Linked DNA regions of Homo sapiens: region 2 is linked to region 1. Evidence: fine-mapped expression QTL. A gene starts in region 1. The other region holds a variant in brackets. All regions are shown on one strand. Distances are between the middles of the regions. Region 1 holds the start of POLQ (DNA polymerase theta). Region 2 overlaps STXBP5L (syntaxin binding protein 5L).

Region 1 (16,164 bases):
GAACTGTGAGCCAATTAAACTTCTTTCTTTTATAAATTACTCAGTCTCAGGTCTCCCTTTCCGTCCTTCCTTCCCTCCCTCCCTCCCTTCCTTCCTTTTTCTTTCTTTCTTTTCTTTTCTCTTTCTTTCTTTCTTTCTTTCTTTCTTTCTTTCTTTCTTTCTTTCTTTCTTTCTTTCCTTCCTTCCTTCCTTCTTTCATCTTTCTTTCTTTCCTTCTTTTTTCTTTCTTTCTTTTCTTTATTTCTTTCTTTCTGTCTGTCTGTCTGTCTGTCTTTCTTTCTGTCTCTCTCTCTCTCTCTCTTCTTTCTTTCTTTCATGGAGTTTCATTCACTCTTTTGCCCAGGCTGGAGTGAAGTGGCAAGATCTCCGCTCACTGCAACCTCCACCCCAGGGTTCAAGAGATTCTTCTGCCTCAGTCTCCCGAGTAGCTGGAATTACAGGCATGTGCCACCATGCCCAGCAAATTTTTGTATTTTTAGTAGAGATGGGGTTTCGCCACGTTGATCAGGCTCGTCTGGAACTCCTGACCCTTAGCGATCCACCCACCTCAGCCTCCCAAAGTGCTGGGATTACAGGCGTGAGCCACCGCATCCGGCCTTGTTTTGTTTGTTTGTTTGTTTTTTAGATGGAGTCTTTCTCTATTGGCCAGGCTGGAGTGCAGTGGCACGATCTTGGCTTGGCTGGAGTGCAGTGGCGTGATCTCGGCTCACTGCAACCTCTGCCCCCTGGCTTCAAGCGATTCTCTTGTCTCAGCCTCCCGAGTAGCTGAGATCACAGGCATACACCACCACGCCCAGCTCATTTCTGTATTTTTTGGTAGAGATGGGGTTTCACCATGTTAGCCAAGCTAATCTCAAACTCCTGACCACAGGTATCTGCCTGCCTTGGCCTCCTGAAGTGCTGGGATTATAGGCATGAGTCACTGTGCCTGGTATAATCTACTTATTTCTATTGAGTGTGTCTATGTGTTTATATTTTTCCAAAATATTTGTATCATGCTTCCTATTAAATTTTGCAAGCCACTTTTTCTCTTAAATATCAATATGAACAATTTTGCTTTTTGAAATTAATTGCTAATTCGCTTAGCTCCAACTGTCCCCTCATCTTCTAACTCATTTCTTTTTTTTTTTTTGAGATGGAGTCTCGCTCTGTTGCCCAGGCTGGAGTGCTGTGGCTCACTGCAACCTCCACCTCCTGGATTCAAGTGATTCTCCTGCCTCTGCCTACTGAGTAGCTGGGATCACAGGCACCCACCACCACACCCGGCAATTTTTTTTTTTTTTTGTATTTTTAGTAGAGACAGGGTTTCACCATCTTGACAGGCTGTTCTTGAACTCCTGATCTTGTGATCCACCCACCTCAGCCTCCCAAAGTGCTAGGATTACAGGCGTGAGCCACCACTCTTGGCGGTTTTTTTTTTTTTTTTTTGACAGAGTCTTGCTCTGTCGCCCAAACTGGAGTGCAATGTCGCCATCTGGGTTCACTGCAACCTCTGTCGCCTGGGTTCAATCGATTCTTGTGCCTCAGCCTCTTGAGTAGCTGGGGCTACAGGCGCGCAGCAACCATGGCCAGTTAATTTTTGTATTTTTAGTAGAGATGGAGTTTCACCATGTTGGCCAGGCTGGTCTTGAACTCCTGAACTCAAGTGATCCACCTGCCTCAGCCTCCCAAAGTGCTAAGTCACTGCTCTCAGCCTTAATTTTTTTTTTTTTTAATATAGAGACAAGAAGAGGAGCTTTCATTATTCTCTGCATGTCCCACTCAACTCTCCCTCCAATTTCTCTGATTTAGACTGGGTCTCTAAGAATGCTGTGGACAGGAGAACTTGAGCATTTTTCTACAGAAGACCAGGACAGGGACAGAAAGCTACTGGCAAGAGGGAGCACAGGGTGTGGCAGAGAACAGTGAGAATGGCAGAAGATAGTTGGGAGGAGTGAGATGTGTTCTGGTCTGAGCAACAGGGGAGGAGCACAATAAGATGGAAGGGCTGAGGTACCAAAGGAAAGCAGAAGATGCCCACCTTTGCTGTGAATTTTACACAGAGAAAATAATATATTTCTTTTACAAATTAAAGTATAAAATAGAGTAGGTAACATAAAAGAGTCTGAGGCAATGGAATTACGATACAAATTGCTTCTGTCTATTCTCTCTCATTGTGTTGCAAACCCTGTGCAAGTGCCTGCAAGTGCATGATCTTATGGAGTGTGCGAGGTTGGTACATTACTCCCACTTTGCTGATGAGATAATCGAAGCTTAGAGAGCTGAAGTGAGTTGAGATTAGCTTTGTCCACCTTGATATCACAGAAACACATTTAGAAAAATGGAAGGAGTAAAAGAGGAGAACCAGAGATGGTCAAAGGGGAAAAGGTAGCAGGGAAGTTGGAGGAGGGATGGTAGATAACAAATGCATAAATAGCATTAACCATAAGAGAAAAGATGGATAAATTCAGCACCATAAGTATCAAGAACATGGTCTCAGCTGCAGACTAGCTTCAGTCTCATTTCAGGAGGAAGCTCTGTAGCACGAATCTGCAGCATTGATAGCAGTCAGGCCCTGGCCGAAAGTGTAGATGGTGGTGCATAGGCCACACAAAGACAGCTTCTGTTTGTCCCTGAGATATTCCTCCAAGGAGGGGGCAGCTGTGAGTTATCAACCAACATGGCAGCCAGGGGTCGGGTCAAACAACCAGTAAAAGGGATCTGGGAAGGGCAGTATCATACACTGTAAATGTCTGTTTGTAAAAAGATGGTTAAAAGACTAAAAGGTGGGAATTCTGCTTCTGGGACGATGAAGTAGATATGCTTTCCCCCGTTCCTCCTGAGAAGTGGAACTAAAAGCCCTGACCATTATATGTAAACAAACATATGAAGATTCTGAAGGCAGACCAGGCAAGGACCTGGGGAACCAAAAAACTAAACTTTTGTGAATTGCTTGGGTTTTGTTTTTTTGTTTTATATATTCTAAACGGGACACTGGAGAGGCCAGCAACCTGGAAATGCCAATGAACACAAACCAAAACCAAAACCAAAACAAAACAAAACAACAACAACAACAACAAGAAGTCACAAGAAAATCCTAGTTTTCTCTAGTCCAGGGACAAAGGAAGGTCAGCCAAGCAAGAGAGACAAGACAGAAAACATATTTTTTTTTTTTTTTAAGATGGAGTCTCACTGTGTCACCCACGCTGGAGTGCAGTGGTGCGATTTTCCCCACTGCAACCTCTGCCTCCTGAGTTCAAGTGATTCTCCTGCCTCAGCCTCCAGAGTAACTGGGATTACAGGCACACACCACTACGCCTGGCTAATTTTGTATTTTTTGTAGAGATAGGGTTTCACCATGTGGGCCAGGCTGGTCTCAAACTTCTGACCTCAAGTGATCCACCCGCCTCGGCCTCCCGAAGTGCTGGGGTTACAGGGATGAGCCACTGCCCCCAGCCAACAATACATTTCAGTTGTTTATAAATTATGCAGTCAAAGGAATTTTACTATAGCAGCCAAACTAAGACAGGACTATGTATGAATCTGGAAGTTATGGGTTTGTGTTCTTACATGTTCAAGTAATTTAGTCTTTTTATTGGGATTCATTCTTTAGTTTTACTACCTTCAAGTTGGCTTTCTGATGTTTTAACTTAGACTTTTGAAGTTATTTCAGTTGTGCTTTCATCTGCATCTACAAGTAAGCTATTTCAACTAGTTCTTTGAGGCATTGTGGAAAAATAGGTCTTTGTCAGAGTTCCTTGTTAATTTAAGCCTCTTATTAAAACTTTCTCACTGAAGCCACCTGAATTCAAGTCAGCCTCATCCCTTGTGTGCACTGGTGGTTTTCTTTTCTTTTCTTTTTTTTTGAGATGGAGTCTCGCTCTGTCACCCAGGGTGGAGTGTAGTGGCGCGAACCCAGCTCACTGCAACCTCTGACTTCCGGGTTCAAGCGATTCTCCTGCCTCAGCCTCCCAAGTAGCTGGTATTACAGGTGCGCGCCACCAGGCCTGGCTAATTTTTTTTGTATTTTTAGTAGAGACAGGGTTTCACTGTGTTAGCCAGGATGGTCTTGATCTCCTGACCTCGTGATCCACCCGCCTCGGCCTCCCAAAGTGCTGGGGTTACAGGCATGAGACACCATGCCCGGCCTTTCTTTTCTTCTTTTCTTTTTTTTTAGTAGAGACAGGGTTTCTCCATGTTGGTCAGGCTGGTCTCGAACTCTCGACAACCTCACGTGATCCGCCCGCCTCGGCCTCCCAAAGTGCTGGGATTACAGGTGTGAGCCATCGCCCCCGGCCGCACTGGTAGTTTTCAATTCCAGCATGTCAGAATACCTGGGGAGCTTTTAAGACATGTCAGTGCCTGCACTCCATCCCAGATCAATTAACTCAGAATCTCCAGGGGTATTATAATATTTTAAAAGCTCCCTAGGGATTCTAATGTGTACCACTGGACTTGTTTTAGCTGAGAGTCACTGGATTTCAAACACAAAATCTCCTTAATTAGCATCTCCTTTGTTCTGAGTACCTCAGACCTAATCAGTACTACCCTTATTCCACGTTCGTTGTTTATTTTCCAGCTCCTTTCTTTCTTTGCCTTTTTGTAAATCACTTCCACTCACATCACATGAGAAACAGAGTTTTCAGTCTGGGTAGATAATTCTGTTTTAGTCAATTCACAAATGTAGTTTGAGTAATTTTTGTTTTTGTTTTTATTTTTATTTTTGAAACCGGGTCACTCGGGGGATTGCAGTGGTGCCATCACAACTCACTGCAGCCTCAATCTCCTGGGTTCAAGCAATCCTCTCTCCTCAACCTCCCTAGTAGCTGGGGCTACAGGCATGGGCCACCACTCCTGGCTGATTTTTAAATTTTTTGTAGAAATAGGGTTTCACTATGTTGTGCAGGCTAGGCTCAAACTCCTGGGCTCAAGTGATCTTCCCGCCTTGGCCTCCCAAAGTGCTAGGTTTATAGGTGTCAGCCACTGTGCCTGGCCTAATTTGGGTAAAATTTTATTTTTCCATATAACTTCTGAAATTTCCATGGGAAATCACTCTTGATAATTTATGTAAAGTTAAAAAAAATCAGATGATGTTTTTGAATGTACATCAATTATTGTTATTTGGGGGCTTTTTTTCTTCTGTTTTTAGCAATATTAAACTGAAAAAAAAAACCACTTCGAGTATGGCACATCTTCCTTAAAATTCTAAATATTATATTTTAAAAACTTTTAAAATTCATAACTAAGTTGATTAAAATCAGGGAATCCTTTGTAGGACAGAAATGTCAAACATATTCTAGAGGATTAAGAAAAGCACTAGACCCAAAGTTTTCCATAGTGATGCCTGCTGTTCCCCCTGGAGTCTAGAGCATGGATTATGGGCTCTGTTGTTCCCAGCAGGGTGAGAAGTAAGATCTAAAATTCTTTGCATAGGCCAGGTGTGGTGGCTCACACCTGTAATCACAGCACTTTGGGAGGCCAAGAGGGGTGGATCACTTGAGGTCAGGAGTTCAAGACTAGCCTGGCCAACATGGTGAAACCCCATCTCTACCAAAAAATACAAAAGTGAGCTGGGCGTGGTGATGCCCACCTGTGGTCCCAGCTACTCGGGAGGCTGAGGCACAAGAATCGCTTGAACCTGGGAGGCGGAGGTTGCAGTGAGCTGAGATCGCACCGCTGCACTCCAGCCTGGGCAACAGAGTGAGACTCTGTCTCAAAAAAAAAAAAAAAAAAATTTCTGCAGAAAGCCAAAACCCAAGAAAGGCAGCACTCTCAGTGAATGAAGCAGAGAAATATCTGTCCTGCAGATTGAGACAATAAGGATGCAAGCCTGCACAAACCTGACTCTGGGTATCTAGCATAATTCTACTACTTACATATTTTTTAAAAAGCCAAAGATTAAATTTAAAGTGATCCACAATTGGTATGTCTCCCAGGTAACTGGCAGAAGTATGTGTAAATTTTATTTGGAGGGGTTTGCTCAGACCTTGAAGAATTTTTTTTTTTTTTTGAGACTGAGTCTTGCTCTATCACCCAGGCTGGAGTGCAATGGTGTTGTAGCAGGATGAGCTGCAGACAAAACTTCTCAGACACCGAGTTGTAGAAGGAAGGGCTTTATTCAGCTGGGAGTATCAGTGAGCTACTATCTCAAAATCCAAGCTCCCCAAATGCACAGTTTCTGTCCTTTTTAAGGGCTCACGACACTAAAGTTTTCGTACGAAAGGATCGTGGTTGACTGAGCAGTCTAGGGGATACGTAACAGGGGTTTCATGCACTGGTATTCAGAAAGAAACAGAACAGGGCAAGGAGTTTCACGATGTTCTTCTATACAATGTGTGGAATCTATGAATAACATCAGTTTCTAAGTTATGAGTTGATTTTTAACTACTGGGTTGAGGCCTGGCAGGCCCAGGCCTGGTTTCGGGCGTGGCGCCGGGCTGCTGGTCTTTGGTTTTACTTCCTTGTTTTTTTTTTTTTTTTTAAAAAAAACAAGTACTGAGTATAATACAATATAAAACAATATGAGAGGGTCTCTCTCTTCCCAATATGAGAGGGTCTCTCTCTTCCCTCAGTGTGATCCTGGCTCACTGCAACCTCTACCTCCTAGATTCAAGCCATTCTCCTGCCTTAGCCTTCCAAGTAGCTGGGACCACAGGTGCACCACTAGGCCTGGCTAATTTTTGTATTTTTAGTAGAGATGGGGTTTCACCATGTTGGCCAGGCTGGTCTCGAACTCCTAACCTCAAATGATTCGGCCTGCCTTGGCCTCCCAAAGTGCTGGGATTACAGGTGTGAGCCACTGCACCCTGCCTCCTTGAGGAATTATCACAGACAAAATTCCAAGGAACACGAGTTTAGACACAATACAGATGGAAAATGCTTCTGGTATTTTAATATTAGTTATTATGATAACTGTTAGCATAAACATCTTTAATATTTTTGAGAAATAGCCTTCTATTCTCCATTTTCAGAGTTTTTCTGAAAAAATTAGAAATGTTGAACATTTAAAATAAATTATATATTTTAAAATATTCTCTAGGCTTTTGGTAGGATGACATAAAACTTTCAATTCCTTTCTAATTATTTTTCTGATTTGATCATAGTTCACCTAATAATAAAAACAGAATAGCTTTGTAAGAGATTTTTCTAGTTTAGCCTTTTCCCAGCAAAATGCTGAATTTAAATTGGGGGCTATATTAGAACATCTAAATATTTTCTCTGAATAGTATTTATTATGTGCCGGCACTATTCTAAGTACTTTACACATATTGACTTACTCAGTCCTCAAAATAACCAAATAGGTTGTTACAATTATTATCTCTATCATACAGATGAGGACATGGAGGCACAAAAGGGTTACGCTGTAATCCCAGCACTTTGGGAGGCGGAGGTGGACGGGTCATTTGAGGTCAGGAGTTCGAGACCAGCTTGACCAACATGGTGAAACCCTGTCTGTACTAAAAATACAAAAATTAGCCAGGTGTGGTGGTGCAGGCCTGTAATCCCAGCTACTTGGGAGGCTGAGGCAGGAGAAACGCTTGAACCTGGGAGGCAGAGGTTGCAGTCAGCAGAGATCAAGCCACTGCACTCCAGCCTGGGCGACAGAGTGGGACACTCCGTCTCAAAACAAACAAACAAACAAAAAATGGGTTAAGCAAGTTGCCCAAGATCTCACAGCTACTAAGTTTCAAACCTAGACTGACTGACTCCAGAGTTGCACTGTTAACCCTTAAGTTACACTGCATCTGAGAAAGTTCTTTCTTGGCTGCAATCTAGGGGTCTCTCTCTCTTTTTTTTTTTTTTCTTTTTTTGAGACGGAGTCTTTCTTTGTCGCACAGGTTGGAGTGCAGTGGTGCGATCTCGGCTCACTACAACCACCGCCTCCCAGGTTCAAGCAATTCTCCCGCCTCAGCCTCCAGAGTAGCTGGGATTACAGGCACCCGCCATCATACCCGGCTAATTTTTTGTATTTTTGTAGAGACGGGGTTTCACCATGTTGGCCAGGCTGGTCTAGAGCTCCTGACCTCAGGTGATGCACTCATCTCGGCCTCCCAAAGTGCTGGGATTACAGGCGTGAGCCACCACGGCCGGCGAGATCTCTTTTATTTCTTTAATAGTACTCTTCATTTCTGCCCAAGCATATGGCACACTTCATTAACTGACTTGTTTAATGTCTGCCTTATTCTCTAGACTCTTTCTCTTTGAGAGCAGGAACCATTTTATGCCATTTCACTGCCATTTACCCAGTGGCTAGCTTACAGTAGATACTCAGTAAATAGTTGTTGATTGCGTAAAAGGCCAAGAGAAAAATGTTTCATTCACGGAGTAATGTCGCCATCTCGTGGAACTTTAGAATATTGTCATTTAAATCAAAAAAATGTTTTCACGGAAGGAATTGATGGTTCGAATGCTATTTTCCAGATTGTATTCGAGTGTTTTTTTTTTTTTTAATTGGACTGGACCTTTTGAGATTTTTAGTGCTCTAGAACTGCACAGCCTCTTCAGGTCAGGCTTAGGGCCTACTAGTTTTGCTTGGTGAAATGAATTATGCAACTAGGTAATGAATGGTCACCGTTTTACGTTCAGAACTCGTTCGCTTCTACCTTTACAAAAGGGACAACACAGATGCATTACTAAGCTCTTGGCTCATAACGATCCCTGGGGTATATTCAGAGCCCCTTCCTCGCGGCGTTCATATAGTGTCTCAGGGGTCTGTCAGCCAGCAATCCCCAATTCCTCATTACATATTCCTCACAATGCATGCTGGCTAAAATGGAAATTGTGTTCAGAAATAGCCCTGCCCTACCATCATATACTAGGAGAAAGGAGGAAATTATGCTCTATTAGAAACCCTAGGCTATCTTGCATAATGCTTCTCAATCTGAAATAATTTTTTACAGAATACCAATACGTTAAGAAGAGCTACTTCCCTGATCTACCTATTATGGGCAGCCCATTTTATGAAGTTAGCATGGCCTTCCTATTCAAACCAGAAATGGACAAAAGGAGAAGGAAGGCTTTTAGGTCAGTATGGTTATAACTGTAGATTCTGTATTCTTCCTCTTTAATCTATCTCTCATATTAACCAACCAGGAGGTTGGAGGCCGGAAGTCTTAGACGCCAGCGAGAGCCGCTCCTTCCCCACGAGTCTATGGCTTTCGGGTTACTTAAGCCACGGAGAACTCTATGGTTCCGGGGCGGGCCGGGAGGTTTGAGTTTGAAGACTGGCGGGAAGATGTCCGCAGCTGTTGCCAGGCCAGGGTTCTCCCGAGAGGGAGGACGCTGGGACTGTGGCTTGCCCTGATCGGCCGAGAAGAGTTTGCCATGAATCTTCTGCGTCGGAGTGGGAAACGGCGGCGTTCAGAATCAGGCTCAGATTCGTTCTCGGGAAGCGGCGGTGACAGCAGTGCCAGCCCCCAGTTCCTCTCCGGGTCCGTGCTGAGCCCGCCGCCCGGCCTTGGTCGCTGCCTGAAGGCCGCAGCTGCAGGTGCTCCAGGAACCCGGGAGGCCGCGGGCAACGGGGGCAGCTCCGCCGGGCCATGGGTCGGGAGGTGTCCTCACCCCACGGGACTTGCTTCGTTGCATACCCCATTGGGCTTCTACTCCCCTTCTCTGTGACTGGGGCCTGGTGTGGCAGGTCACTTTCTGTTCAGACATACGCGTGTTTTCAGTGATCGCCTGGTATTAATGTTCACGTGGCTTCTGGATCTTTCGACCTTTAGAGAAACAACTTCCTAGTTAGCTTCATCCCATCATCTGTTGGGCGGCTCGTTCCTGGTAGTACCCAGTACTCCTTACAGACCCTTAAGACAGGATTGTTGGGCCTGGAGTACGGCACAGGCTGTTCGGCGTCCAGGGGAAGGCTGGAAGGGATTCGTAATGAGATTGGTTGGGTGTCCCGTGGATGTCGACCCAGTTTTTTAAAATCGTTAGTTGTGCAGTCGTCATGGAACTAAAACTTACTATAAATAGAAACTCACCTAACTTAGCTTTGTAATGCTTGCATATTGCCCTCCTCCCCCAACTACACCCGTAATTCCAACACTCTTTATCTACTGTGTATTGCACGCTTTTTTGTTCGTTTGAGGCTTTTAAGGAATTTTTATTATATGCAGTAAATAACAATTTATTACTTTTCTATACATGGTCAATTTCTCATAAGATTCTTGAAGTCAGGATGTGCTTTAAAGAGCTTCATTTCAACACATAGGAATTCCAACACACGGTGAAGGGCTAACTGTAAAACTCATATATTAGAAGTAAATTAAATTTTAATTTTTTCTTTTTCCTAAAAGGAGAATGCAAGCCTACAGTTCCTGACTACGAAAGAGACAAGCTACTATTGGCAAACTGGGGACTTCCTAAAGCAGTTCTGGAAAAATACCACAGTTTTGGTGTAAAAAAGATGTTTGAATGGCAGGCAGAGTGCCTTTTGCTTGGACAAGTCCTGGAAGGAAAGAATTTAGTTTATTCAGGTATCCAAATTTATGTAAACTAATTACTATTTTTAAGATATGAATGTAAAGAATACTCTATTGAGGTAGTTGTGGTTCGTTTAAAAGGTGAATGAGGCAGTGCTTTATAACTAGAGAAAATCGTACAATATGTGTGAAAAGTGGAGTTTTATTTATATTTAAATTACAAAAGTTTTATTGTTTGACTGGGGTGGAGGGAAGCAAGAAAAATGACAATTTAAAGAGTGGGCAATTCTGCCTGCCATTATTCTCAACAAACATATATCCCAGTGAGTGTGCAATGGGAGATGTAAATCTGCCCTTCCCCTGTTTGATCCTGGTTGCTTTTCAGGGTATGAGCATTATCATTACATGTTTGTTAATTTACCTTTTTTTTTTCTTGAGATAGAGTTTGTCTCCAGGCTGGAGTGCAGTGGCGCTATGTGGGCTTACTGCAACTTCCACCTCCCAGGTTCAAGTGATTCTCCTGCCTCAGCCTCCCAAGTAGCTGGAATTACAGGTGTGCGCCACCAGGCCCAGCTACTTTTTTGTATTTTTAGTAGAGATGGGATTTCACTGTGTTGGCCAGACTGGTCTTGAGCTTCTGACAAGTGATCTGCCTACCTTAGCCTCCCAAAGTGCTGGGATTATAGGTGTGAGTCACCGTGCCCAGCTATAGATTGACCTGTTTGTACAGGGTTGTATATACAAACAACAAGTAATATACTTTATATAAAATTTTTATGGGTTTTCTTTTTTTTTTTTGAGATGGAGTCTTGCTCTGTCGCCCAGACTGGAGTGCAATGGAGTTGTCTCGGCTCACGGCACCCTCTGCCTCCCGGGTTCAAGTGATTCACCTGCCTCAGCCTCCTGAGTACCTAGGATTACAGATGCCCGCTGCCATGCCTAGCTAATTTTTGTATTTTTAGTAGAGACGGGGTTTCACATCTTGGTCAGGCTGGTCTCGAACTCCTGACCTCAGGTGATCCACGCACCTCAGCCTCCCAAAGTCCTGGGATTACAGGCATGAGCCACCATGCCCGGCCCTATATGGGTTTTCATGGGCAACTATGGCATACACAATTTTTAACGCATGCTTACTACACTGACTTTAAATCTAATCATTTGGTAAGATGCAATTCCTTTGTGTCAGTTTTCTCCGAAATTATGAGTCACACAGATTTTTCATTATGGCTGTAAGGACGAATTAAATAATTATCAGCAGATATAAGTTCAGGCAGTGGAATTAGACTGGTTGGATTTGAAAACTATCACTTACTGGCTATGCAGCCTCACAGATTACTTAGGAAGAGTGAGAGAGTGTATATGTGTTTGTGAGTATGTGTGCCTCGGTAGTACTTAGAGTTGATTAAATTATTTCATATATAAAAGCTCAGAACAGTTTTTGGCACATAGAAAGTACTTGTATTGTGAAAAGGCATTACAAAAAATAAAATACTTGTAAATGCTAAGAAGTCATAGTTAGTGGCAGTGGCATAATTGCTTGACCATTTCAATTGCTTGAAACTGAAACTTGGGTATCATTCAGAACTCTGGTCACCAGCTTATACAATTAATCACCAAGTCCTGGTGTCTGTTACCTCATATATCTCTTGCTTCTGACTCCTTTCTGTTTTTAGGTCCATTACCTGGTACAGCTCATTATCATCTTTCTTCTAGATTATGCAATAGCTTTGAAACTAGTTCATTCTTTTCCTCTGATCTTGCCCTGCTCCTGCAGCCAAAGTGGTCTTTTTTTTTTGATGGAGTTTTGCTCTTGTTGCCCAGGCTGGAGTACAATGGCACAATCTCAGCTCACTGCAACCTCTGCCTCCCGGGTTCAAGTGATTCTCCTGCCTCAGCCTCCGGAGTAGCTGGAATTACATACAGGCGCCCGCCACCACGCCCGGCCCCAAAGTGGTCTTTTTAAAAAAAATTTTTGTTTAAATTTTTTGTAGAGATGGGGGTGGCACTGTGTTGTCCAGGCTGGTCTTGAACTCCTGGGCTCAAGTGATTCTCCCAAAGTTTTGAGATTACAGGCATGATTCACTGTGCCCAGTCCAAAGTGATCTTTATAAAGTACAAATATGATCTTGTCACTCCTTTTCATAAAACTCATCAGTCACACTGCATTGCTTTCAGGACAAGGTTTAAACTCCTTAAATGGTGGGATTATAAACCTTTCTTGTGGCACTTTCATATCTCTTCTTTTATACCCCTGGGGTACTTTATACTCCATGCTTACTAAATTACCTTCTGTGTCATCTGAACATGCCAGGCTTTCTTCTAGGCCTTTGTACCATATGCTGTTTCTTAGGCATGGCATTCCTTTCCTCTTCCTTTCTTTTTTCTTTTTTTGGAACAGAGTCTCACTGTATCACCCATGCTAGAGTGCAATGGCGTGACTGCAACTCACTGCAGCCTCCTCTTCCTGGGTTCATGTGATTCTCAGGCCTCAGCCTCCCAAGATGCTGGGATTACAGACATACAACACCTTGCCCATCGTGGCCTCCTCTTGCTTTCTTCCTTACCTTCTCATAAATTCTGTTTCATTTCCATAAGATTCCTTGCAACTTTTTTCCTTCCACTTCTTTTTTTTTTTTTTCCTTTTTGAGACGGAGTCTCTCACTGTCGCCCAGGCTGGAGTGCAGTGGGGTGATCTCGGCTCACTGCAACCTCTGCCTCCCAGGATCAAGCAATTCTTGTGCCTCAGCCTCCTGAGTAACTGGGATTACAGGTGCCCGCCACCACGCCCAGCTATTTTTTTTTTTGTTATTTTTATAGTAATAGAGATGGGGTTTTACCATGTTGTCCAGGATGGTTTCAAACTCCTGACCTCAAGTGATCCCCCGGCCTTGGCCTCCTAAAATGCTGGGATTACAGGCATGAGCCACCATGCCCAGCCCTTTTCTTCAACTTCGATCATAGCTCCTATCATAATAAAATTGTTCATCTACTTCCTCAAAGCAGGCCTTTTACCCATTTGGTACTTAAAGGAAAGGATCTTTAGGTATAAACTAGGTACTCAGTAGTATTCATCATATTGCTGATATAAAGATTTATTTACTCTGTTTTTAGTTGAGACTATTAAGACAGGTGGTTTAAAGTAAAGGGCATTTCAGGGTATAAAGATTTTAAGTGCTATTGGGCCCTTAGTGATTGGTTAGCCTTAGGCTCTGTAGTACTACACATGGCTTAAAACATTTATTAATGAATTGTACCGAATATTACTTTTTTCTTATAATCTTGTGGAATAATCATGTTTTAGCTCCTACAAGTGCTGGGAAGACTCTTGTGGCAGAATTACTTATTTTGAAGCGGGTTTTGGAAATGCGGAAGAAAGCTTTGTTTATTCTTCCCTTTGTTTCTGTGGCTAAAGAGAAGAAATACTACCTCCAGGTAATGTTTTTTACTAAGTTTGAAATAGTGAAAGGCTCATTATTGGCAGTCTTGGTTTCATTCATTTGAAATAGAATTATAAAAGCAAGTGGAAAACAAAGTTTCTTCATTGTGCCCTATGTAGCTTTAAGAGGCTACTGCCAAAAGCATTAAAAATTTACAGCAAGGGGCTGGGTGTGGTAGCTCACGCCTGTAATCCCAGCACTTTGGGAGGCCAAGGTGGGCGGATCATCTGAGGTCAGGAGATCGAGACCAGCCTGGCCAACATGGGGAAACCCCATCTCTACTAAAAATACAAAAATTAGCTGGGTGTTGTGGCGCACACCTGTAATTCCAGCTACTCGGGAGACTGAGGCTTGAACCTGGGAGGTGGAGGTTGCAGTGAGCCGAGATCACGCTATTGCACTCCAGCCTGGGCAACAGAGTAAGACTCTGTCTCAAAAAAAAAAAAATTAAAAAAATTTACAGAAGGAAATTAAAAGAAAATTATTATTGCATTAAGGAGAAGGGGCCATCAAATCAAAAGAATAATTGGTGAAAATTGTGTAAAAATTTGTAAACCTTTTCTTAGGAAATAAACAGAATATTTAAACTAGCATATAAACACGCACATTAAGAATCAGCATTTAACTGAACAGTAGGACTAGACTGAAGCATAGAAAGGAAAGAGTGTTTAAGGAAGTGTATCCTGCCCTAATTGAGGACTATTTAGGAATATTTAGGGGATGAAGGTCAAGATCCATTGGTGCTTAGGTAAAGCTCCAGGTATGTGATCTGTTCCTCTGTTCTGCAAAAATGACTAATAGTAGTTTACATCAATATGATGCTCACAGTTTTTAGGGCATTTTCACAAATACAATATTTTATTAAATGGAATAAATTTACTGTTGTGATTTCTGCAGTGAAAAATATGTGCTTTTGAAATGGAAAGATTGTTATACTGATTGTTAAAGAAATGTGGGTTCTAGTCCCAGTTTTGCCACTAACTATGTCTTTAGGCCGGGCATATAACTGGCTGGGCCTCAGTTTTTTTATTTGTAAAATTAGGATGTTAACCCTTAGCCCTGTGGGTTAACTTAGTAAACACTCAGGAAAATTTTATTGAATGAATAGCTCTAAATTTCTATGGTTCTATAAATCTTTTTAATAGTTATTTCAGAGGCACAGTAGCCAACAAAGCTGGTCATACATGGTAACATCACTCAACTTAGACCCAAAGTAACGAAATGATGAAAGGATCCTTTTTATTGAAAGGTATGTTAGTTAAAAGTTAAACTAAAAAAAAAAAAATTATTATTAAAGTCCCACTGAATTTGACTTTTAAAAACTTTTCTTCCAATTACATTAAAAAATTGGTCATTAGTAGGATAATGAGACTATTTTCCTCATGAAGTATAAATTTGTTTCTTTAAGTGTTATAGCTAGTTTCTTGCTATTTATTAGATTAAAAATGTTAGTGCTTAAGGTAGTTTTTCTCCAATTTTAATTCCTCTAAATAGCTCTTAGAAGTTTTTAGATTATTATGCTGTCATTAAAATGGCATAATTTTATTTGACTCTTAACAGTTTTGTCAGTTCTAAACTTTATATTTTTAGTATATGATCTAAAAAGAACCAGTGTGTCCTGGCCAGAAACAACTGATGACAGTAATCTGGTAGATGTCTTTAGATACTTATGTCTATGTTCTGGGATAGAACCAGTTTATAACTCTTGAATTTCAAGTTTTTTCACCTGTATTGTTCCTTTTTACTCAATTCAGAGTCTGTTTCAGGAAGTAGGAATAAAAGTAGACGGTTATATGGGCAGCACCTCTCCATCAAGGCATTTCTCTTCATTGGATATTGCAGTCTGCACAATTGAGAGAGCCAATGGTCTGATCAATCGCCTCATAGAGGAAAATAAGATGGATCTGTTAGGTAAGAAAGTTAGAAAATAAGTAAATACTTTCTATTGCTATTTTTGATGGAATGAAGTGGAGCTGTTGTGATTTCTCTAGGTCCCATTTGTTTTCCTATTGTCTATTATCTACTTCTGGAGGCAAGGATTGGCATCTGTAATGTTAGGAACGCTGTGTTTATAAGTTTTGTGTCCTGCTGCTGTTATTGACTCCGTTACGTTGCATTTTTGTACTTTACAAAACGTAGATTATATCCTTGAGCCCTCAATAATTTCTCCTTGCTTCTTTCCTATCTAAACTCTACCAGGAATAGAAGGAGGCCTGCTGGGCCAGATCTGCCATTTTGTGGTTAGTGTATATGGGTTTTTGTTATTATATTCTGCTGCTATGATGTCTATTTTGGGCTTGGACCCAGAGTCTGTCATTTAGCATGGA
Region 2 (16,164 bases), 140 kb after region 1:
ATAAACTAGACTTTCATATAAAATCATAAAAATCACAGGCACAGTTCTTTTAATTCACATAGATGCTTAGCAAATGTTCTTGATGGATTAAATGCAGTGGCCAGCAATTTCAGGGGCACTTTTTGTAGCACTTCACATGTTCCTACAATGACAGCCTTTGGCTATGTCAGAAACACCACAGCTAGAAAGTGTCTGACTGCATACTTGGTCTATTGTCTTTCTTTAAGGCAAAACTGACAGAGATGTGTTGTGGGTCCAGTTCACTGTGCCTGGAAATGAAGTGGTTTTGCTCCCCATTCCTTTACTCACTCTATACACAGGAAATGAAAATTACCCATAACTTAGGGCAACTGCACTGGAGGCATGACTAATAAGTAAATATGGCCAAGACTGTAAGGGAATGAGAATAAGTTATAAATAATAGATCAGAATTTGCACATCCAAATGAATACCATCTGAATTGTCTTACCCCATGGCTATATGCTTATCCTAATGTAGCAGATAATTTTGCTAAAATATTCATCAGAATGTCCTTTTGGATACTGTTTTTCGAGCCAGTTTTACAAACCACTGAAGAAAACCAGTCTCATTGCCTTTTAATCAGTCCTTTAATGCCAAAAGGGAAAAGGTAAACTTGTAATTAAATTTTGAAACCATTATACTGATTCTAAGTGTGCACAATGATTTTACATTGTCCTAGATCATAAAACCAGCACCTTGAAAAAAATACTGATTTCCTTTATCAAAGTGGTTTGTAACTATACTTTGAGACCTGGAAATTTACTATGTAAAATGGGACCTGAAATCTGTGCTATTGGACTAAGCACTGTGCTGTCCAATATGGTAGCCAGTAACCACATGTAGCTATTGAGCAGTTGATACGTGGCTCGTCTGAATTGAGATGTGCTGTAAACGTAAATTACACACTGGATTCAAAAGCTTCATTGATGAAAGAATTACCTAATATCTTAAAAAGATATTAAAAGATGATCTGTTATAGCACTTCTGGTAACTAAGCTCCTTAAGATATGAGTCCAAACCAATCCCAGTTAAACAGATTTCCATGACAGATTCAGTCAAATTAAAGGGTGGAGTTGAGGAAGAGGTTCCAACTGACTTTTCTGATGTGCTACATTGTCTATATTGTATAATAACAAGTAAGCCAAGAAAAGAAAATTAAAGAGGTGTAGTCACTTCAGGTAGGAAAAGAGAAAGAGCAAGTCAGTTGCTAACTGCTAGGAAACAATTGCTCTTATAACAGAAGAAAAAAAGACTTTCTTCTATGCAGGACACTTTAATAAAGAAATAGTGTCGGGTAACTAAAGGTGGATCTCACAAAAAGTGTCTCTTACAGCCAAGTTTGAGAATTCATACAAAGATAAGCCTCTTCTATTTCTCCTCTCTACTCTCAAACTTGCTTTTCTGAGTCTGGGTACTTAGGATCTAAGTAACCACTGGCTAGCTACCTGATATCTATCAGAAACCCAGGACTTGAGAAGACTGGGCTCAGGAGAGTTACCTTCTGATAGGGTCTGGAAAGATCCTGGGAATATACTCAGTATGGGAAAATGAATGAGGCCAGGTGCATGCTAATTTGTAGGATTCATTTCTTTAAACCATAGAGCAGAGTACATACCATTGTTTCCTAGCTACACTTTATGTATATGTATTATTAAAATCATATCAAAATTATTTCCTTTTCAGTTATTTTTGAGGATCCTCAGGAACACATGAAGAATTTCTACTATGACACAATATCAAAGTAACCATTATCATGTCAAGCAGCTTTTATAAAGGACAGAGGAAGACAGATACCATTTATCAATGACTCAATGTATGTGTGTGAGAGATACACACATTTACACACATACACAAATAGACCTTTTTTCCCCCCCAAATCTGAGGCATGTATGGGAGTTAAATCATTTTCAAACAAGATTGAAATGACCTTATCAGAAATTTCTAAAAACAGTTTGAGAAAGGGGGAACTAGATAGAAAAGAATCAGAAATACATGAGAGAATGAACAGACCATAAAATGATTATTTTTATTCAAAATTTTCTCCTTTACTACTTTCCCTTGACCTACAAATCTGCTCATATTTTCCCTATCTAAAAAAAAAAACACTCTCAAAACCTAGTTTCACTCTTAAGCGACTTTCCTGTCTCATCTCTCTTTTAACCACAAAATTTCCTGAAAGAATAATCAATACCAGGGGAAAAGGGCCCATAAATATTTATGATAGTAAATATTTTAGGCTCTCTAGGCTATATAGTCTCTGTTGCAACTATTCAACTCTGCCCTGTAGTGCAAAAGCAGCCATAGTCAATATACAGAAACATGGGTGTGGCTGTGTTCCAAAACCTTTATTTATGGGCATTGACATTTAAAATTAGTATAATTTTCACATATCATGAAATATTCTTCTCTTTGAGTTTTTTCAACCATTAAATATGTAAAAACCATTCTTAATGCTTGCAGGCTGTACAAAATCAGATAGGGGAATGGAGGTCGATTTTGTTTTGGATATTAATTTGCTAAACCCTGATCTATACCACTGCCTCTATTCTTGTCTCCTTGAAAATTAGCTTTTGTTTCCACCATGCTGCTAAGATTTGCTTTCTCAAAGATCATTAATATCCCACCAGTTGTGAGATCTACTGTTTTTTTCTTGTACCCAAATTCTTTGACCTCTCTGCTATATTTTACTACCTCTTGACAACCTCTTTTGTTTTAATATTCTTCTCTTTTTATTTAATGAAGTTATACAATTCTGGTCCTTTCCTATCTTTCTAATAACTTCTCAATCTCCTTTGCTGCATCTTATTCTTTCTTTCACTACATAAACGTAGAATACCCCCAAGTTTCTATCCTCAGCTCAGTCAATTTCTTGTTTCTTTTTATGCTATCTTTTTTATTATCTCATTTCCTGACATAACTTTTACTGATGCATTTACATAGATGACTTCCAAAGCTGGACCTTCCACATATATTTTTCTAAGAGTGCAAATCTTAAATTTATTGCTAAACCTCTGCTGGATGGCTTATAACACCTAAAATTTCAAATATTTATTCTCAATTTATTATTAAATTTCTCTTTATTGGCTTTTTCAAATCCTTCTGACTTTCCTATATGCTAATAACATAACCGTTATCTAAGTTCAAAAAAATTTTTAACCTTTAAACTCTCTTCTAACCTCGAGATTTAACAACTTCCATTACTGTTCATAACCAATCAGCTTTGCATTCAATAAGTTTCCCTTACACCTGTTTCCTCGTTGCCTTCAATACAGACACCACTTCAGTTCAAAAGCCTATCTCAACTTCTCCCTCCCTGTGTATGTCCTAACACATGGCTAGAGAAGGTTAATTACCTGCTTAAAACCCCATTTCCTATTAATTGATAAATGTCAAACTCAGCCTGACATTCAAGGTCGTCAACAATTTGCTTCAAACTACCTCTCCATGTTACTGTCCTCCCAACAACTCTTCATTTATAATACATGTTCAACTATGCTGTGACTTTGAACTCTGGGAACTTAGTTTGTGGCTAGAAAATTCAATCCCATATTTCCTCTGTTGGAATTTATATTTTCTTTTTGTTATAATGTCTGTGTATCTATCTTATCTCCCAAGTTAGACAGTGAGTTTCTTAAGGGTTAGGACCATGTTCTACTAATTTTTATATCCTTCACAGGCCTAGCACAGTGCTCATCTCAATGATTTTTGGAAATAAGTGAGATATTAAAAAAATGACAGTGACTTCTATATAGTATACGTTTATGAGCTATTTGCTGAATTCATAAAATCATTAGGTAATTATTTTTGTGTCTCGTAAATTTTATTTCATTTCACTAACAGTAGAATGAAATCTCTTGACCAATATTTTATTTTAAAAGTATCTGATAACTTTTAATTATCAGACTGGCCTCACTTTTCCTAGACTTGCAACCTCAGGCAAACTGTGTAACTTTATTAACACATGTAAAATGGAGGATGCAAATAATAGTTTATTTTCCTATGTCCTAGAGAAGTTCTAAGGATCAAATGAAACTCTGTATGTAAATTTCTTGGGTGAAGTATCAAACACAGGAAAAGTAAAAGTTAACTTCTTTTCTATTTAGCTTATTCATCTTTTATTTCCAGTGCTTAGTGTAGCATCTGGGAGATATGCTCAATAAATATTTGTTGAATGATTGAAAAATCATTCTTTTCTTAGATTCCTTCAAAACAATTAAAAATATATTTCACTCACAATGCCAAGCATTTTTAGCAGAAAAGAAAAACCAAAACAAAACACAAAACCCCCAAACTCTCATCAAATCGTTGAACAATAAAACATCCAGAAACATAATGAAACAATAATCTCAGTTTGCTTCTTGATAACATCTGCACATAACACATATATTTTTTAGGATTGTACCTTGCTGGTATTGTTGTGATTACCAGATAATTTATAAGAAGGCAAGTACCTCATTATCATGATATGTCCGTTAGCACAAAAGCATGCCAAGCAGGCACTGCTACACATGACCACCACATTTGCTTGCAGTATAAAAGATGTCTCCGTGATGTTATGAACATAAAGGCAAGTCTGAGAAGGCAGTGAGAAGACTTTGGCTTGTTTTTCTGAGCAGATTATTGTATACTGATGATCTCCTATTTCTTGGGATGCAGAAGATGAGTTCATTACCACTTTCCTTCTCCAAGATTTTTCATTTTCATCTATGTTGTTTGGATCCCTCCAAACTTCATATGGCGGTTGCATTAATCCACCCATTCGGTCCATACAGGAGAATGTTAGCACAGCTCCTTTCAATGAGAGGAATGTACCTATAAAAACAATTGGACATCACTGACATGTCAAATTCATTCTAAAGCATCTATAGGGAATTAAAGTTTTACATTGTGATAATTTATACCTATAGAGTCATAATATTGCCCTAATGTATATGAATTTGTAGATTTGTGAGCTCATCTGTTATAATAAGTTGGAATCATAGAATGTTAGGTCTAAAAGGAACTTAAGACGTCAACTGGTCAAACCCTCTCATTATATTAAAAAAGAAGAAAAAACAGACCCAGAAAGATTATGAAAGTTGGGCCAGGTCACACAGCAAGTTAGGTCACAGCCTAGATTAGAACTCAGATTTTTCTGATTCCTACCCCACGATTCTTTCATTATACTATATAGTCCCCCTTAAAGTCCTTTTATAAAAAAGAAAATTTTAAAAATGTACATATTTTATTTATTGAAATAACTTCAACTGAAAAATAATCACACAATCTTATTTGATTTTCTTATTTCATAGACTAATTTGCTAGAAAATGCTTGATTTTTCTTCAAAATCAAACAAGAAGAAATTTCAATATCTGGAATTCACGGTGGCAATTTTAATTGTATGAAAAAGACAAAACAATTACCTTCAGCTCTTAGGTAGGCTTTTGCATCTTTACACAGAAAGGGGTTTTACTCACCTGGATTCTCCAAGGTTGACAATGTATGCCAGATTATTGCCTATAGGTGATTTTCACCAGTCTTGGAGGACAATATACTATAAAGCTTAGGAGGTAGTTTGGGCTCTATTGATCTTTGGATATTTCCAGAATCTTCCCTAAGCAGTACCCTATTAGCCCTTTCTTTCCTTTGTCCTTTTACATCATGCAGAGAAAGTATGTTAGCTTAGACTGATAATGTCTCAAGGGTGTACATGTGACAGAGACTTGAAAAGGGAAGGGTGACAGATAAAAGTATATTCATTTAGAAAGTACTTACAAAGTCCTTAAAATTTATCAAATTGAAAAGAGTATATTGGGATGATCTAATATCTTAGTTGTGTTTTTAAATCCACTTCAAAACTAAGAAATCTATAAATGTATATAAGGGTAACGGCAGAGGCTAGGGGAGTAGAGGTTTAGGTGCTGCAGTTTAAGGGTTAAGGGATAAAAGAACATCTCTCCCAATCTCCCATGAAGGAAAAATGCCAACAGCTCTGAAGAATGATTTAATTAAAATTAACCTAGGATTGATCCTGCTGTTCAGTAAAACCACATTTTCCTAACTACCTGCCATAGAAAGACTTTTCTAAGTATATCTTTTCATCCTTGATTTAGAGATGGCTGACAGTAGGTTAAAAAGACAAGAAATCCACATTTTGAAAGCCATTTTACTTATACTCATTGCATACAATCTTCAGCATCAAAATGAATTTCTCAATAAGCTGCCCTTGCCAAAACAGCTGCTTTGTTTCTTAATTTTTAGTCATAAATGCTTTGATTATATTCTGTTCATTAGGTTTATACAGGGTTTAAGTTTTCCAAACAATGTATTATTAATCGTTTAGAATTCTTTCTTTAATCTTTTCCAACTGGAAAAAACTCAAGTAAATCTAAATCATAAGCAGCTACTACTTCAGAAATACACTTACAAAGTATGCTTAAACTTATGGGCTTCAATAATAAGATCTTAATTAATTAGGACTTTCCTCTTAAAGAAGAACTCACTGGCTAGGAGTGTACTTTACTCCAGCTTTCCCAAATCACCAGCCTTGCCGACTACAACCTTCATTCAATCAATACATACAGTATCAAGTACATTCTATGTGCTCTAGGCTCTATTTTAGTCATAGTCAATATAGTGGTGAATAAAACAGACAAAAGTCCCTGCCTTCATAAAACTTACTTTCTAGGGTAGAGATAGATAATATGTCTGATAAATAAGTAATCATATGGGATATTAGATAGTAATGAGTACTAAGGAAAAAAAGCAGAAAAGAAGATAGGAATTCTTGAAAAAAGGTAGATAAATTTTAAATAGTGTTATAGACTGAATGTTTGCATCCCCTGCCAACCTCTTGTAAAAAAAATCATATGTTAAAGCCCCAACCCCCACTATGGATCTATTTGAAGAGGGAGCCTTTAAGGAAATAATTAAGATTAAATGAGATCATAAGGGTATGGCTCTAATCTGATAGAATTAGTGTCCTTTTAAAAAGAGATACCAGAGTACATGCTCTCTCTCTCTCTCCCCCTCCCTATGTGTACACAAAGGAAAGGCCATGTGAGCACACAGCAAGAAGGCAGCCATCTGCAACCCAAAGGAAGAGACCTCACTAGACATCTGCCCTGCTGGCACCTTGAACTTAGAGTTTCAGTCTCCAGAACTGTGAGAAAATAAATTTCTGCTGTTTAAGCCACTGAGTCTGTGGTATTTCATTATGGCAGCCTGAGCAAACTAATAAAGAAGGGAAGGCTTCTTTTCATCATCCTGTGGGAATTAGGGTTCAGGAAACCAGCACAAAATACTGATATTCTATGACTGTTGTGAATAATAAATTATCCTTTGTCCCTGAGCCAGGAGTTTCATGTCTTCTATCAGCATCGAAACTGGCAACCTAACTTTATTAGCTTACAAGTAGAATAAAATCTCAGATTCTTTATAGGTCTTGACTTTCTAGAATGCCAAGAAGATTCATAGGAGGTAAGATCAGAGAGATAAAGTAGAGCCACATCATGTTGGTTCTTTCAGGACATGGTAAAGACCTAGACTTTTACTTGGCGTGAGATGGAAGGATTTTGAGAATGGAAGTGATGTAATCTAACTTTCATGTAACAGAATCACCCTACCTCCTGGGTGTATCCTAAAGGGAACCAAGGCTGGAAGCAGGGAGAGCAGTGAAGAGGTTAGTGTATTAGTGTGCGTGAAAAATGGATAGAGGCTTGGTTGAACTGTGTGGTAATAGTACAGATGGTGAGCAATGTCAGAATCTGAGTGTATTGTAAAGGTTGTGCCAGCAGGATTTGTTAACAAATTGGATTTAGGGTATGAAAGAAATATGGGGGTCAAGGGTGATTCCAGT[G/A]TTTTTGACCTGAGAAACTGGAAGAATGGAATTGTCATTAATAGATGTAGAAAAGTGTGAGAGGAATGAGAGGAATACCAGGAGCTCAGGTTTGAACATGTTAAGTTTGGGATACTTACTAAACATCCAAATGGATATCAAATAGCTGGATATATGTTAGGAATTTGTGGAGAGGTCCAGACTATAAATATAAATGTATGATCCATCAGACATTTAAAGGCATGAAGCTGGCTGAATTCATCTAGTGCTTCAATATAAAGAGAAAAGTTTCAAAGAATCAGTCTTGGGGCATTCTGGTTTAAGTCCACTGAAATGGAGGAGGAACAAGCTAAAGAGATTGAGAAGGAATAGCTAGAAGGTAGGAAGAAAATCAGGTGAAAATAGCACTCTAGAATTTGAAGTGTTTTAAGGTAGGAATGGTAGCCTGTGTAATACGTTGCTGATATGTCAAATAAGATGTTTCCTGAGAAATGACCAAGAATTCCTATCTCCTTTTCTGCTCTAATTTTTTCCTTAGTACTTATTAGTGTCTAATATCCCATATAATTACTTATTTATCACACATATTATCTATCTCTACCATAGAAAGTAAGTTTTATGAAGGCAAAGACTTTTGTCTGTTTTATTCACTACTATATTGCCCATGACTAATACAGCCTAGAACCCATTGTTTCTCTTTTTTAATGGAAGATATAACAATATATTTATATAATGATTCAGTAGAAAGAAAAACATTTATTATAAAGGAAACAAAGGAAAAATTGCTGGATTGACTTTCTTAAGTAGGTGAAAGCAGGTAAAGTCTAGTATATAAGTGGAGTCTAGTGTACAAACAGAGTCTAGAGTATAAGTGGAATATAGTGAATAACTACCACACAGTTCACACAAGCCTCTATCCATTTTTCATCCAGACTATTGTATTAACCTCTTCACTGCTCTCCCTGCTTCCAACCTTGATTCCCTTTAGGATAGGCCAGGAGATAGAATGATTCTGTTAAATGAATCACCTAGTTAGAAGCTTAGTTTAGTAACTGTAACAGGAGAGAATATGCAGGCCATGAAGATACAAGCAGATAGGTTGGTAGATGTGATGATAGCTGTTGAAGTTTTTATCTGATTGTTTCAATTTTCTCAATAAAAGAGGACACATGGTGATTGCTGAGATTGAAGACAGAAAAGCAAGTTTTGGAGATTTAAAGAGACTAGAGAAAATACGTAATTGTTAGCCAGGCATGATGGCATGCCTGTAGTCCCAGCTACTCAGGTGGCTGAGATGGGAGGATCGTTTGAGTCTAGTAGTTCAGGGCGACAGTGAGCTATGATTGCACCATTGCACTACAGCCTGGGTGACAGAGTGAGACCTCATCTATACCAAAACAAAACAAAACACACACACATACACACACAACCAAAAGGATAAACAAGAAAATATGCAATTGTTGTCCAGGAGTGCAGGGGCAAGGACTAGGAAAATATAGTATGATTACCTAGCAGCATAAGAGCCCACTTGAAGTTAGTGATGATTTATGGTAAAATGAGACACTTTAGTGTGGTTATGTATTTTTCTCTAGCCATATTCAGCTACATGGGTCTAGAAATAGGATAGGTAGAGTTGAATTTAATCAGGTTTGAGATTAAGCTGAATAAGTATGACAAAGCAAACAAAGCAAAAAGGAGGCAAGAGAGTTGACAATGCATGAAAGAAAAGCATTATAGAGCTTGACTGTGAAATTAAAGTTAGAAAGGGGGAACATGAAGGGGGTGAATGACAATGAAAATGGTAGGATCAATAGATTAAGGTTCCAGTGAGGCTGAAGAATTATATTAAAGTTGGAGTCTTAAGGAGCCTGAGATATTTGCTTTCCTTTTCCCTTACATACATTGTTTAAACTTTAATTGTCTCTCAACTTCCACGGAACTTCTCAATTCCTATCTAGAATGTAAGCTCTTTGAGGACAGAAACTTCGTATGACTTCGTCATTACTTTATCTTCAGTGCTTATTATAATATCTGGACATGTCATGTGCTCAATAAACATTTATTAACTTCCTGACTACTCCAGTTCAGTCTTAATTATGGATTTTTAAACTTCTATTTTATCTTATATACTCAAGATCAGCTACACAATTTGTGGGCCTAGCACAAAATGAAAATGCACTAGGCCTACAAATTATGGGGGACTTTTTGTTCAAAAATTGGGAGAACTAGCACTTTTCTGACCACTTTTTGTCTTCAAGGTTTTATTTGAAATCTCTTATGTGCTCATTGTCCTCCACCATTCTCTTTGTCACTGTAAATCTAATTCCTTTTTTTTTTTTTTTTATTATACTCTAAGTTTTAGGGTACATGTGCACATTGTGCAGGTTAGTTACATATGTATACATGTGCCATGCTGGTGCGCTGCACCCACTAACGTGTCATCTAGCATTAGGTATATCTCCCAATGCTATCCCTCCCCCCTCCCCCGACCCCACCACAGTCCCCAGAGTGTGATATTCCCCTTCCTGTGTCCATGTGATCTCATTGTTCAATTCCCACCTATGAGTGAGAATATGCGGTGTTTGGTTTTTTGTTCTTGCGATAGTTTACTGAGAATGATGGTTTCCAATTTCATCCATGTCCCTACAAAGGACATGAACTCATCATTTTTTATGGCTGTATAGTATTCCATGGTGTATATGTGCCACATTTTCTTAATCCAGACTATCATTGTTGGACATTTGGGTTGGTTCCAAGTCTTTGCTATTGTGAATAGTGCCGCAATAAACATACGTGTGCATGTGTCTTTATAGCAGCATGATTTATAGTCCTTTGGGTATATACCCAGTAATGGGATGGCTGGGTCAAATGGTATTTCTAGTACTAGATCCCTGAGGAATCGCCACACTGACTTCCACAAGTGCTAGTTGCAATAGTAGGTAGGGGATGCTCCTAGAGGTTAGGAAAGCAATCGTGGTGCCCTACAGAATTCAGAAGAAACAGTGGAGATTTGAAGGGAGACACACAGCTAAAAACTGATTTGTTATTTGAAAAATGAACAGAGCAATGCATATACTGCCTGTGAACCCGCATACTGAACACATGCAGCCAGGCAGCCTCTCAGGGGGCAACCATTGCTCTCATTTATTCTGTCATATGTTAATACTGCCTGCTCTTGGATTTCATATAAATGAGCAAAACATATAAAAAAAAAATTGGGAGAAGAGGTACCATTGAAGGTTGCAAATTATAAAGCTTTTTTCTTTCTTCTGTGGTCTATCTCTTTAGTGTTTTTATATTTGCTATTTATGTTCTATGTAAAGGAAAGTTAACTTTTTTTATTATTCATAATATTCTATATAAGAACATTTAACCTCTATTTTGAACTGTAGCAAAAACACAATAGCTAGTCTCCAGAGCTATGAAATGATTATTCACAGGGAGTTGGCCAGAAGAGACAAACCAGTCAGTCTCAGGAAGGTTGGAAGGTGGAAGACAGGGTCATTCAAGTCCAGACCAGACCTGAGGGAGCACATTCTTAGGTATGGGGATATCTCTTGCAGCTTGAGAATGCTTGCAAGATGACTGCAGACTTTCACAGGCATCTGAGGGTCTCACCACATGACTTCAGTTACTTAAGTACATTTGAGTCTGATGGCTGCTAAGTTTCTCCTCTTTACAGCAATAAGACCCCATCCTGCCACCTCAAACCATAGAAGAGGGGTGACTCCCAGAAAGTCTTTAAAACTGTTTGCTAGGAAGTGCTAGCTACCTGGAACAGGACTGGTTAAGACTCTCAATCTGAGACATGGCCTCTGGTTGGCCGATCACATGCTAGAGTCACCAAGTACTACCAACTCAGGATAAGGATGGCTGCTTCCATGCCCCAAAATGTCACCAGGCATGTGCCTGACCCCGACCACCTCTATGTATACTCCAGGCCCCAAAAGCAGTGGAAAGTGAAAGTGGAATGCCTCTCTCCCAACAAACTAAGTCATCGCCTGGGTGAGAGGTAGGTGGGAGGCAGACTGCTCATGAGCAGAGGCTTCAAGCCCCTGGTGCATGCTCCATTGTCTCATTGGTCTTTACTTACAAAGCATACATCAAAAGATAAAATTATTAAGAATTTTAAGACTTTAAGAGCAGAGGGCCTTCTGGGAGCAGAACCCTGTGCATCAGTAGACAAAAGGGACAAGTAAGGTTTCATTTTTGTAGACTCAGCACATCTGGGAACTTGCTAAAAATGCAAATTCTCAGACCCTCCCTCAGACCTACTGAATCAGAAACTTTGGGGGCAGGGCCCAGTAATCTGTGTTGTAATGAATGCTTCAAGTGATTTTGATGCAGACAAAAGTGATAGGTGTTGGAAACAGGCCCCCCAAAATCTGGCCATAAACTGGCCCCAAAACTAGCCATAAACAAAATCTCTGCAGCACTGTGACATGTTCATGATGGCCGTAACGCCCACGCTGGAAGGTTGTGGGTTTACCAGAATGAGGGCAAGGAACACCTGGCCCTCCCAGGGCCGAAAACTGCTTAAAGGTATTCTTAAGCCACAAACAATAGCATGAGCAATCTGTGCCTTAAGGACATGCTCCTGCTGCTGTTAACTAGCCCAACTTATTCCTTTAATTCAGCCCATCCCTTCATTTCCCATAAGGGATACTTTTAGTTAATTTAATATAGAAACAATGCTAATGACTGGCTTGCTGTTGATAAATACGTGGGTAAATCTCTGTTCAGGGCTCTCAGCTCTGAAGGCTATGAGATCCCTGATTTCCTTCTTCACACCTCTATATTTCTGTGTGTGTGTCTTTAATTCCTCTAGTGCCACTGAGTTAGGGTCTCCCCAACCGAGCTGGTCTCAGCAAGTGGCATCCATCATGGGGGCTTGAATCCAGGTTGAAGGGTCACTGGAGCAATGGTTGGAGAACATGGAACTAGCTGGAGGACACCCGAGTACTCTTAAAGCAATCCCCATGGTGAGTAAGAAGGGGAGCTCAGAAGCATCAGGGTAACAATGGGACAAGTGTGGGGTCTGGTTCATTCCACCTTGGAACTTTTTCACACTGATGAGGAGGAGGAAGGAGAGTATAATGAAGTACAGAAGAGGTTACAGACCAGGCTTATTTGCCAGCTAAAACTAAAGTGGAAAAGGAGGGAGAGGTTCATCCCTACCCTTCTGCACCCCCTCATTATTATTTTGAAGAAAAAGAGTGGCCTGACCCTCCAGATCTTTCTTTTCCGGAGGACACTGGGTGAAAAGTAGTTGCCCCAGTGTCTGTTCGAGCAGTGCCTCGAGCGACCACTCTTAGTTCTATTCAGGTAGGAATTCAGCAAGCTAGAAGAGAGGGTGATTTAGAGGCTTGGCAGTTCCCTGTTAGAATACAGCCCCCAGATCAGCAGGGAAATATTATAGCTACATTTGAGCCTTTTCCTTTTAAATTCAGGAAAGCACATTTAGTTGATTATATCAAGGCCTGTGATGGTATTGGAGGTAATCTGCATAAAGCTACTTTGTTGGCACAGGCAATGGCAGGACTGAGAGTGGATAAAGGAAATACTCATTTCCTGGGGCTTGTTTTAACTGTGGGAAGCATGGTCATACTAAAAAAGAATGTAGAAAAAATCAGCAAGTCAGGCCGCCAGATAAGGGAAAAAAGAAAACTGCTGAGCCTGAAATATGTCTAAAATGTAAAAAAGGAAAACATTGGGCTAAGCAGTGTCACTCTAGGTTTGATAAAGATGGGAACCCGATTTTGGGAAAAGCCATGAGGGGCCCATCCTGGGCGCTGTTCTAAACTGGGGCATTTCCAGCTCAGGCCATTCCCTCACCCCTGTACAATATCTGTCCCCCACCACAGCCGGTAGTGCCGCAGTAGATTTATGCTGCACAAAAGCTGTGAGCCTTCTGCCTGGGGAACCCCCACAAAAGGTCCCAACAGGAGTCTGTGGATCCTTGCCAGCGGGGACAATAGGATTACTTTTAGAAAGGTCTAGTTTAAGTTTAAAACGGGTACAAATACATACAGGAGTCACTGACTCAGATTACAATGGGGAAATTCAAATTGTTATATCTACTTCTGTTCCCTGGAAGGCAGAGCCAGGAGAGCACATGGCACAGCTCCTGATTGTGCCGTATGTGGGAATCGGAAAAAGTAAAATTAAACGAACAGGAGGATTTGGAAGCACAAATAAACAAGGCAAAGCTGCTTATTGGGTAAATCAAATTACTGATAAACGTCCTACCTGTGAAATAACTATTCAGGGAAAGAAATTTAAAGGTTTGGTAGATACAGGAGTGGACATTTCAATCATTTCTCTACAGCACTGGCTGTCTGCGTGGCCAATTCAACCTGCTCAATTTAACATAGTTGGAGTTGGTAAAGCCCCTGATGTATATCAAAGTAGTTATATTTTGCATTGTGAAGGGCCCGATGGACAACCTGGGACTATTCAACCAATTATAATTTCTGTACCTATAAATTTATGGGGAAGAGATTTATTACAGCAATGGGGAGCACAAGTTCTAATTCCAGAACAATTATATAGCCCTTAAAGTCAACATATAATGCATGAAATGGGGTATGTCCCTGGTATGGGACTAGAAAAAAATTTGCAAGCTTTGAAAGTACCGCTTCAAGTGGAAAGACGATGTTCCCACCAAATATTAGGATATCATTCTTGATGGCGGCCATTGTTAAGCGTCCAGAACCTATACCTTTAAAATGATTAACAGATAAGCCAATTTGGATAGAACAATGGCCGCTAAGTAAAGAGAAACTGGAGGCGTTAGAGGAATTAGTTACTGAACAATTAGAAAATGGGCACATAGCTCCAACATTTTCGCCTTGGAATTCTGCAGTTTTCGTAATTAAGAAAAAATCAGGTAAATGGAGAATGTTAACTGATTTAACAGTCATCAGTTCAGTTATACAACCTATGGGAGCATTACAGCCAGGATTGCCTTCTCCTGCTATAATTCCTAAAAATTGGCCTTTAATAGTCATAGATTTAAAAGACCGTTTCTTTACTATCCCCTTAGCTGAGCAAGAATGTGAACGGTTTGCATTTACAATTCCTGCAGTAAACAACCTGCAGCCTGCTAAGTATTTTCATTGTTTCACAGATGGGTCTAGTAATGGTAAAGCTTCTTATTCTGGATCGAAAAGTAAAGTTTTCCAGACACCCTATACTTCAGCTCAAAAAGCGGAGCTTGTAGCTGTAATTGAGGTATTGACTGCTTTTGCTATGCCTATTAATGTGATTTCTGATTCTTCATATGTGGTTCATTCCACACAGTTAATTGAAAATGCTCAGTTACAATTTCATACAGATGAACAACCGATGACTTTATTTACCCAATTGCAAACAGCAGTTAGAAGTAGAATGCACCCTTTTTACATCACTCACATTAGGGCTCATATACCTCTTCCAGGACCTTTGACTGAAGGGAATCAAATGGCTGATCACCTAGTTGCTAATGCAATATCTAATGCTAGACACTTTCACAATTTAACCCATGTTAATGCCTCTGGTCTCAAATGCAGATACAGCATTACCTGGAAAGAAGCTAAAAATATTATCCAGTGATGCCCAACTTACCAAATGGTACATTCTTCATCTTTTACAGGAGGAGTTAATCCTCGAGGATTGGAACCTAACTCTCTTTGGCAAACGGATGTCACACATATTCTCTCATTTGGGAGACTAGCATATGCACATGTATGTGTGGACACCTTTTTTCACTTTGGGCTACATGCCAATCAGAAGAGTCTCTGCCTGTGTTAAACATCACCTTTTGCAGTGTTTTGTGGTGATGGGCATTCCAGCCTCTACTAAAACAGATAATGCCCCAGGCTATACTAGCCAAGCTCTAGCTACATTTTTCTCCATGTGGAATATTAAACACATTGCTGGTATCCCATACAATTCTCAAGGACAAGCCATAGTGGAAAGAATGAATCTTTCCTTAAAAGAGCAGTTGCAAAAGCAGAAAGGGGGAAATAGAGAATATGGAACACTGCAGATACAACTGAATCTGGCATTATTAACTAAATTTTTTGAGCCTGCCCAAAGGCCAGATGTTATCAGCAGCTGAACAGCATCTACAGAAACCAGCTGCAAAGAGAAGCAGAACAACTGATTTGGTGGGGAGATCTGATAACAAAAAGTTGGGAAATAGGTAAAATAATAACTTGGAGTAGACGTTATGCTTGTGTTTCTCCAGGCCAAAATCAACAGCCAATTTGGATACCATCAAGACACCTGAAACTTTTTCATAAGCCAGATGCCGAGGAAGAGATTCTGGGAGGATCCCGAGGAC

What was found.
Region 2: its variant is fine-mapped to the expression of POLQ in lymphoblastoid cells (GTEx, PIP above 0.99).

Annotation. Positions count from the first base shown.
Region 1 is chr3:121,539,017-121,555,180 of GRCh38, reverse strand. POLQ (DNA polymerase theta) reads left to right here and starts at 9,193. Exons shown (of 30, transcript NM_199420.4): 1 at 9,193-9,466; 2 at 10,275-10,454; 3 at 13,702-13,832; 4 at 15,592-15,748. The coding sequence starts at 9,304. RefSeq lists enhancers at 6,317-6,476, 9,045-9,339, 9,231-9,460.
Region 2 is chr3:121,395,912-121,412,075 of GRCh38, reverse strand. It overlaps STXBP5L (syntaxin binding protein 5L), which reads right to left. Exons shown (of 27, transcript NM_001308330.2): 23 at 4,473-4,833. Among named protein-coding and RNA genes, the nearest start is that of POLQ, 140 kb to the left of the region's middle. The variant G/A (reference allele first, on the strand shown) is at 7,860.